Homo sapiens: one gene and its partner. The protein of the gene in region 1 purifies or fractionates together with the protein of each later gene. This does not show direct contact. Each region holds a gene or a part of one and is shown in the gene's direction. Other genes may lie near its edges.

Evidence for each region. Proteins that work in one complex are often made in the same cells at the same time.
Region 2: the proteins of SP3 (region 1) and SEC23A fractionate together in Homo sapiens (co-fractionation; one large-scale study listed by BioGRID). This does not show direct contact.

What each region holds. Positions count from the first base shown.
Region 1 is NC_000002.12:173,958,718-173,962,373, reverse strand, and holds part of SP3 (transcription factor Sp3), read left to right. Parts: intron 1-3,656. UniProt on the Homo sapiens protein: Transcriptional factor that can act as an activator or repressor depending on isoform and/or post-translational modifications. Binds to GT and GC boxes promoter elements. Competes with SP1 for the GC-box promoters.
Region 2 is NC_000014.9:39,093,216-39,096,871, reverse strand, and holds part of SEC23A (protein transport protein Sec23A), read left to right. Parts: intron 1-732; 5' UTR 733-753; coding exon 754-974; intron 975-3,627; coding exon 3,628-3,656.

The sequences.
Region 1 (3,656 bases):
AAAACTACTGCATAAGTAAAATTAAAAAGCAGATTGCTTCTCCTGATCTTTTTTGTATTTCAAATGGAACAAAACTTTTCTTGTAACTGTAATTTGTAAAGTTTAGATATCAGTTTACAGATGGGGGAGGGGAGAAGGAAGGAAATATGGGTGAATAATATGTGTATGTACATACATATGTGAGTCTGAGGCCCAAGGATAGAATACTGTCTCCAACCTTAGCCAGCTGTGGCCATATACTTGTAGGGAAGTTTCCATGCTTCTTCAGCTGCTTTTCTGAATTACCAAATCACTCCTGACAACACATATTCTGCCACATGAAGACGAACTAGAATCAATCTGATAAATCTGAGATTTATCAATCAAATACATCATAATTTGCCAATCATAGTAAAATGAAAATAGTTTTGCCTAAAAAAAAAAAAAAAAAAAAAAAAACCCAAACCATATATTTATGATGTCTGGTACCTGCACCCAAGATTTTTCACTTTGAGTAAAATTGGTAAGACTGGCTTGTGTGTATTTGCCTTAGCAAATAGAAAATTTGCTAAAAATTTATTTTTCCAGTGCAAATATGAACTTAAGACATCTTTTCAGCACATCTTAGAAAAGGAAATTCACATGAGTTCATGGGCTTAGATAATCTTTTATTACTCAAATGACTGGGAATTATGAGAGGTTATAGCTGTGTTTTTAAATAATTGTATTTTGGAATAATTTTAAATTTATAGAAAAGTTGGAAATACAGAACTGAGTAATCTCATACCCTTCATCCAGCTTCCCCTAATGTTAGGATAATGATGATACATTTGTCCAAATTAAGACATGAACATTGGTATGACATTACTAACCAGACTTTGTTTGCGTTTCACCAGCTTTTCCACTAATGTCCATTTTCTCTTCTGGGATCCAGTCCAGGATTCCACATTGCATATATATTGTTGTGTTTAAACAAGTGGAAATATACACATACAGATGAACTTTATGCCAGTTTAGCTTGGTATTTTGAGATTAAAAGGGCCTTGAAAAGCCAATCAACTGTGCTGAAGATTGCTTTTAATATTTGGATTTTGAATTTGGAATTTGTCATAAAAGAGGATCCTAGCCAAGGGTGTTTGGTTACCCACAGTACATTGCTGAAGAAGTCTAGTCATAAAGCAGTCTCGTATATAATGTCGTACAACATGGACTCTGAAAGATGGTTTTATAGCAACGCTCCTTTGTACTTAAGTTGTGGCTAATTTTAGTAGTAAACCAGGAAATAGAAAAAAGTAGACCTTTGTGCAAGTATTAACTTTGACCAGTTTGCATTTATGTGAACTTGTGGATTATTAATTTACTTCATTTTTACTTTAGTGGAATAAAATAAGTGACTTTTATTTTTATTTTTATTTTTTTGAGACAGAGTCTCACTCTGTCGCCCAGACTGGAGTGCAGTGGCGCGATCTCGGCTCACTGCAGGCTCTGCTTCCTGGGTTCACAGCATTCTCCTGCCTCAGCCTCCCGAGTAACTGGGACGACAGGCGTGTGCCACCATGCCCGGCTAATTTTTTTTTTTTGTATTTTTAGTGGAGACAGGGTTTCACCGTGTTAGCCAGGATGGTCTCGATCTCCTGACCTCATGATCTGCCCACCTTGGCCTCCCAAAGTGCTGGGATTACAGGCGTAAGCCACTGCGCCTGGCCTAAAATAAGTGACTATTATGAAAGTGATTGCTTGATCTTTGGTTTAGGTTGTAAATTTAGTGTTCCTTAATTTGGCACATAAATGTTGAGCTAAAAAATAAGTAATAGCTTACTTCAAAAAAGTTATTTTGCCATTATTTAAAATAAGACCTGTGCTGTCATTGTAACTAATTCATTGGGTAGGGTAATTCTATTTGAAGTCTGAGTTCTTTTAGTGCTCTTTGAAGATTTTAAGAAACTTGAATATTTGCCTAAGTTCTTAATTTGTTTCCACCTCAGCTTCACACCTGTTCTTGTTTCCAGTTATACTCCTTCCTTTCCTATTTCTGGCTTTCGTAAAGGCATTCGTGGGAACTAAGTTAATAATCATTTCCAAATGCTATGCAATAGGTGGTGTGAATTTTTTCTTTTTCCGTTTCCACCGGTATATTTGTATGTAGAGAGACTTAGAGTGCCTTAGTTACAACTTTTTACTGTACTAATGCCAACATTCATGTTAGATGGTGTTTTGTTTGTTTTTTGAGAAAGGCTCGCTTTGTCTCCCAGGCTGGAATGGAGGTGTGTGATTACAACTCACTGCAGCCTCAACCACTGGGGCTCAGTTGATCCTCCCACCTCAGCCTCCCTAGTAGCTGAGACTACAGGCACGTGCCACCACGCCTGGCTAATTTTTGTATTTTTTGTAGAGATGGGGCTTCGCCATGTTGCCTAGGCTGGTCTTGAACTCCTAGACTCAAAGGATCCACCTGCCTAGGTTTTGTTTGTTAATTGTCCGGTAAGAAAGGTACTGAGAGAAACACTGGTGGATTTTTAATTTGGTTTGTAAACTTACGTAGACATAGGTTATGTAGAGGATTATCTTGCTTCTAAACCAAATACTAGTTCTCGTCTTGGTTGCCTGTTTTAATTTTTTTTATTTTTATTTTTATTTTTTTGAGACTGAGTCTCGCCCTGTCACTCAGGCTGGAGTGCGGTGGCGGAATCTCGGCTCACTGCAATCTCCGCCTTCCAGGCCCAAGCCATTCTTCCGCCTCAGCCCCCAGAGTAGCTGGGACTACAGCCCCAGAGTCCCAGAGTAGCTGGGACTACAGATGTACACCATGCCCGGCTAATTTTTGTCTTTTTAGTAGAGGCGGGGTTTCATCATGTTGGTCAGACGGGTCTCAAACTCCTGACCTCAAGTGATCTGCCCGCCTCAGCCTCCCACAGTGCTAGGATTACAGGCGTGAGCCACCGGCCCTGTCACGGTTGTACGTTTTTAAATCTCCTTTTATTCTTTTGTTTCTGTAGTGTTTCCAGTAGTCTAACATCAAACATTTTTCAAACTTTTTTTTTTTTTTGGTCTCAGATGATTTTCTAATTTATTCCTCTCCCATTTGGTATTTAGTGTACTTTATCTCTTTTAGTGGTATATTGCTGATGAAATTTCTTTTACAAAGAAATTTGATTGTGCTTTGCAAGGCTTTGTAGTTTTGAAATATTTGGAGCTGATTCATTGTGGAATTGTGGAAATAAATAGGCTTAAAATTGGTTTAGACTTTTTCATAGAAGGCTCTTAATACCTCAAAATTTGTTTTGATCCATTCTGTCATTGTGTTTGCAATGATTTTAAAGTAAAATAACTTTTCATTCAGTAAATATATATTGATCTTACTGAGTGCCAGGAATTGTGCTAGGCTAATTTTAATGGATGTTTTTCAAATCTATTCTCATAATCTTAGCACTCACAATGATCTTGGGATTGCACAGTGCTCAATAGTTTATAAAATTTAATATTTTTCTTCTGATTCTTATGCCCCTGCAAGGTAATGTTTTTCCGGTTGTTGACATGAGAAAATTGAGTTGCTGTAACTCACACAATTCCACAGTGTAGCCAGAACTAGAACTCAGTTCTGAGCTTTTTTTTTTTTCTTGTGTAATATATTGTCGAGTGTAGTTTTGGCATAAATCATCTAGTAGTTTTCTGATTCA
Region 2 (3,656 bases), on another chromosome or scaffold:
GTTTAGTGGAAACTTGTTATTTTTCAGATAGAAACCATGTGAGTTTTAGAACTTTATAATTTTGAAATCTGTTTATATGAATTCTTATAATTTTCAAAACTGATATGGAAAACATAGGATCTAGGTTTTCCCCCTATTTTTGCATTTCTTTCCTATATATCCTTAAAGAAATAAGACACTATTTTTTGCCATCATCTTTTAGAGTGAATAAAAAAGTGTTAAATACCTCTTATTGGGCCTTGTGAACATTGGGTAGAGCCATTAATTATTTTGTTATGAGTTGCTTGCTAATTTTTTTCTGAGATAAATATTTTCATTTGGTCCTGATTTTTTTTTTTTTTGAGATGGAGTTTTGCTCTTGTTGCCCAGGCTGGAGTGCAACGGAATGATCTCGGCTCACCACAAACTTTGCCTCCAGGGTTCAAGAGATTCTCCTGCCTCAGCCTCCTGAGTAGCTGGGATTACAGGCATACGCCACCATGCCTGGCTAATTTTGTATTTTTAGTAGAGACGGGGTTTCTTCGTGTTGGTCAGGCTGGTCTCGAACTCCCGACCTCAGGTGATCCGCCTGTCTCGGCCTCCCAAAGTGCTGGGATTACCGGCGTGAGCCACGGGGCCCAGCTGGTCCTGATTTCTAAGGTGTTAATATTGCTGAATGAGGGGAGAACATTCATATTTTGAACGTTCTTAAGAGGATCCTGGATTTTAAAATATTTTAAAATTTTGATACAGAAATAAGAATCAAACTCCACAATGACAACCTATTTGGAATTCATTCAACAAAATGAAGAACGAGATGGAGTCCGATTTAGTTGGAATGTTTGGCCATCAAGTCGACTGGAAGCTACAAGAATGGTTGTTCCTGTGGCAGCCCTGTTTACACCACTGAAAGAGAGACCTGACTTACCACCTATTCAATATGAACCTGTTCTGTGTAGTAGGACCACTTGCCGTGCAGTTTTGAATCCTTTATGGTAAGTAAAATATATAGAAAAACTAATGTGGCAATGTGATTTTAAAATGTCGGGGTTTTTCTGCATATTTTTATAAAAATCCCTTTGTTTTTGTTCATACTAATTTTTTCAAATTAGGACAGTCAAAACAATCCAGAGAGCTGTAAAATTTTAGGATCATTCTAGTTGTACTGAGTTGGTAATATAAAGAGACCAAATGTAAAAGTGGCACTATAAAAACTGTTAGATTCCATCAGTGTCTTCTGAATAGTGGTGCTGGATGTGTATCAACCCATCTTGCATCATTAGATAAGTCATAATTGGCCGGGCGTGGTGGCTCATGCCTGTAATCCCAGCACTTTGGGAGGCCGAGGTGGTGGATCACCTGAAGTCAGGAGTTCGAGACCAGCCTGACGAACATGGTGGAACCCCGTCTCTACTAAAAATACAAAACTTAGCTGGGGTGTGGTGGCATGTGCCTGTAGTCCCAGCTACTCGGGAGGCTGAGACAGGAGAATTGCTTGAACCTGAGAGATGGAGGTTGCAGTGAGCTGAGATCGTGCCTCTGTACTCCAACTCTGGGTGACAGAGCGAGACTCCGCCTCAAAAAAAAAAAAAAAGTTGTGATTGAGTGACATGATGTTCCAAAAATGTTGTGATTTCTGTTGCTGAAGCCAAAATCTCAGGAATCATCTCTTACTTCTCTTTCCATTCCCTCTCCCCCCAGCCAATCCACTAGCAAATCTGGGTGATCTACCTCTAGAACATTATAGATTCTGTCTCTTACAGCCTCTTATTCCATCTCTGGTAGTATACCCTGCTTCAAGATACCACAGTCTTTTTCCTGGGCAATTTCAATATCCTCCTACCTGCTCTCCCTGTTTCTATTCTTGTCTTTCAGCAGTCTGTTCTCTACCCAGAAGCTAGAGTTTTATGAATGAAAATCAGATGATGAACATCTTCCAGTAGTAGCTTCTTATTCTTGGAATGAGAAATACAAACTCCTTATCAAGATCTATAAAGCCTTGTATGATCTAGCCTCTGTATATATTTCTGCCTTCATCTTGTGTTATCCATTTTCCTTATTCTCATCTACATAATACCTTAACCCTGTTACCCTCTTTCTGATTCTTGAACATACCAAACTTACTCCTACCTTGACAATGGTATAGTAGCTGTGCATTCTGCCCGGATTCTTCTGTCTCCATATTTTCGTATGATTGCTTCCTTTTCATTCTGATCATACTTTAGTTGTCTATTTAAGAAGGCTGTTTTTTAAAGCAGCCCTCTTAAACACATTCTCACATTCTGCTTTGTTTTCTTTAATCTCTGTTATTACAATGTAAAAGTATTTTTGGCTGGGTGCAGTAGCTCACGCCTGTAATCCCAGTGCTTTGGGAGGCCAAGGTGGGAGGATTGCCTGGGCAGCAAAGCAAGACTCCATTTCTACAGGAGGGGAAAAAAAAAAAAAAAAAATATATATATATATATATATATATATATATATATATATATATATATGTGTGTGTGTGTGTGTGTGTGTGTATATATATATGTATATGTGTATATATGCATATATATGTGTATATGTGTATATATGCATATATATGTATATGTGTATATATGCATATATATGTGTATATGTGTATATATGCATATATATGTATATGTGTATATATGCATATATATATATGTATGTGTATATATGCATATATATATATGTATATGTATATGCTGGGTGTGGTGGTATGTGTCTGTAGTCCTAGCTACTTGGGAGGCTGAAGATGGGAGAAACACTTGAGCCAGGAGTTCAATGCTGCAGGGAGCTATGATTCTACCATTGCACTGCAGCATGGGCAATAGAACGAGACCCTGTCTCAAAAAAAACACCAAAAGTATTTTCTTGTTTGTGCATCTGCTTGTCTTTTGTCTGTTTTTTCTAGAATGTAAACTCCATGAGAGCAGTTCTCTTTTTCTTGTATCACCAGCGCCTAAAATAGTGGTTGGTACTTATTAGGCATTCAGTAAATATATTTTTGACCTGAATAAATGTTTTCTAGGTCTGAGTGTAGATGTTACTGAAGTCACTTGAAGAAAAAAATAGGATTATTTTAATTTTATTGATATTTGCTGTATATATGTGTGCATATATATATTTTTGAGATGGTTTCACTCTGTCACTTAGATTGGAGGGCAGTGTTGTGATTGTGGCTCACTGTATCTTTGACCACCTGGGCTCAGATGATCCTCTCACCTAAGCCTCCTAAGTAACTGGGAGTGCAGGCATGTGCCACCACGCCTGGATGATTCTTTGTATTTTTTGTGAAGACTGGGTTTCACCATATTGCCCAAGCTGGTCTTGAACTCCTGGACTCAAGCCATCTGCCGCCTCAGGCCTCCCAAAGTGCTGAGATTACAGGCGTGACCTACTGCACCCAGCCAATATTTACTATATGTTAAAAGTTATATTCACCATTTAGGTAAACTTGTATATGTTAAAAGTGTGAATTAGATATTGGCAGTATCTAAAACTACATGGCTTTTAAAAGTTACTTTGACTATCAATTTGAATATGTTCATGTTTTAGGAAGAAATTAATTTTATTGAAATTAGGATTTTTGTAAAATTGAACTGAAATATGAACTGATATGTCTTTTCTTTTTTTTTAAAACAGTCAAGTGGATTATCGAGCAAAACTTTGGG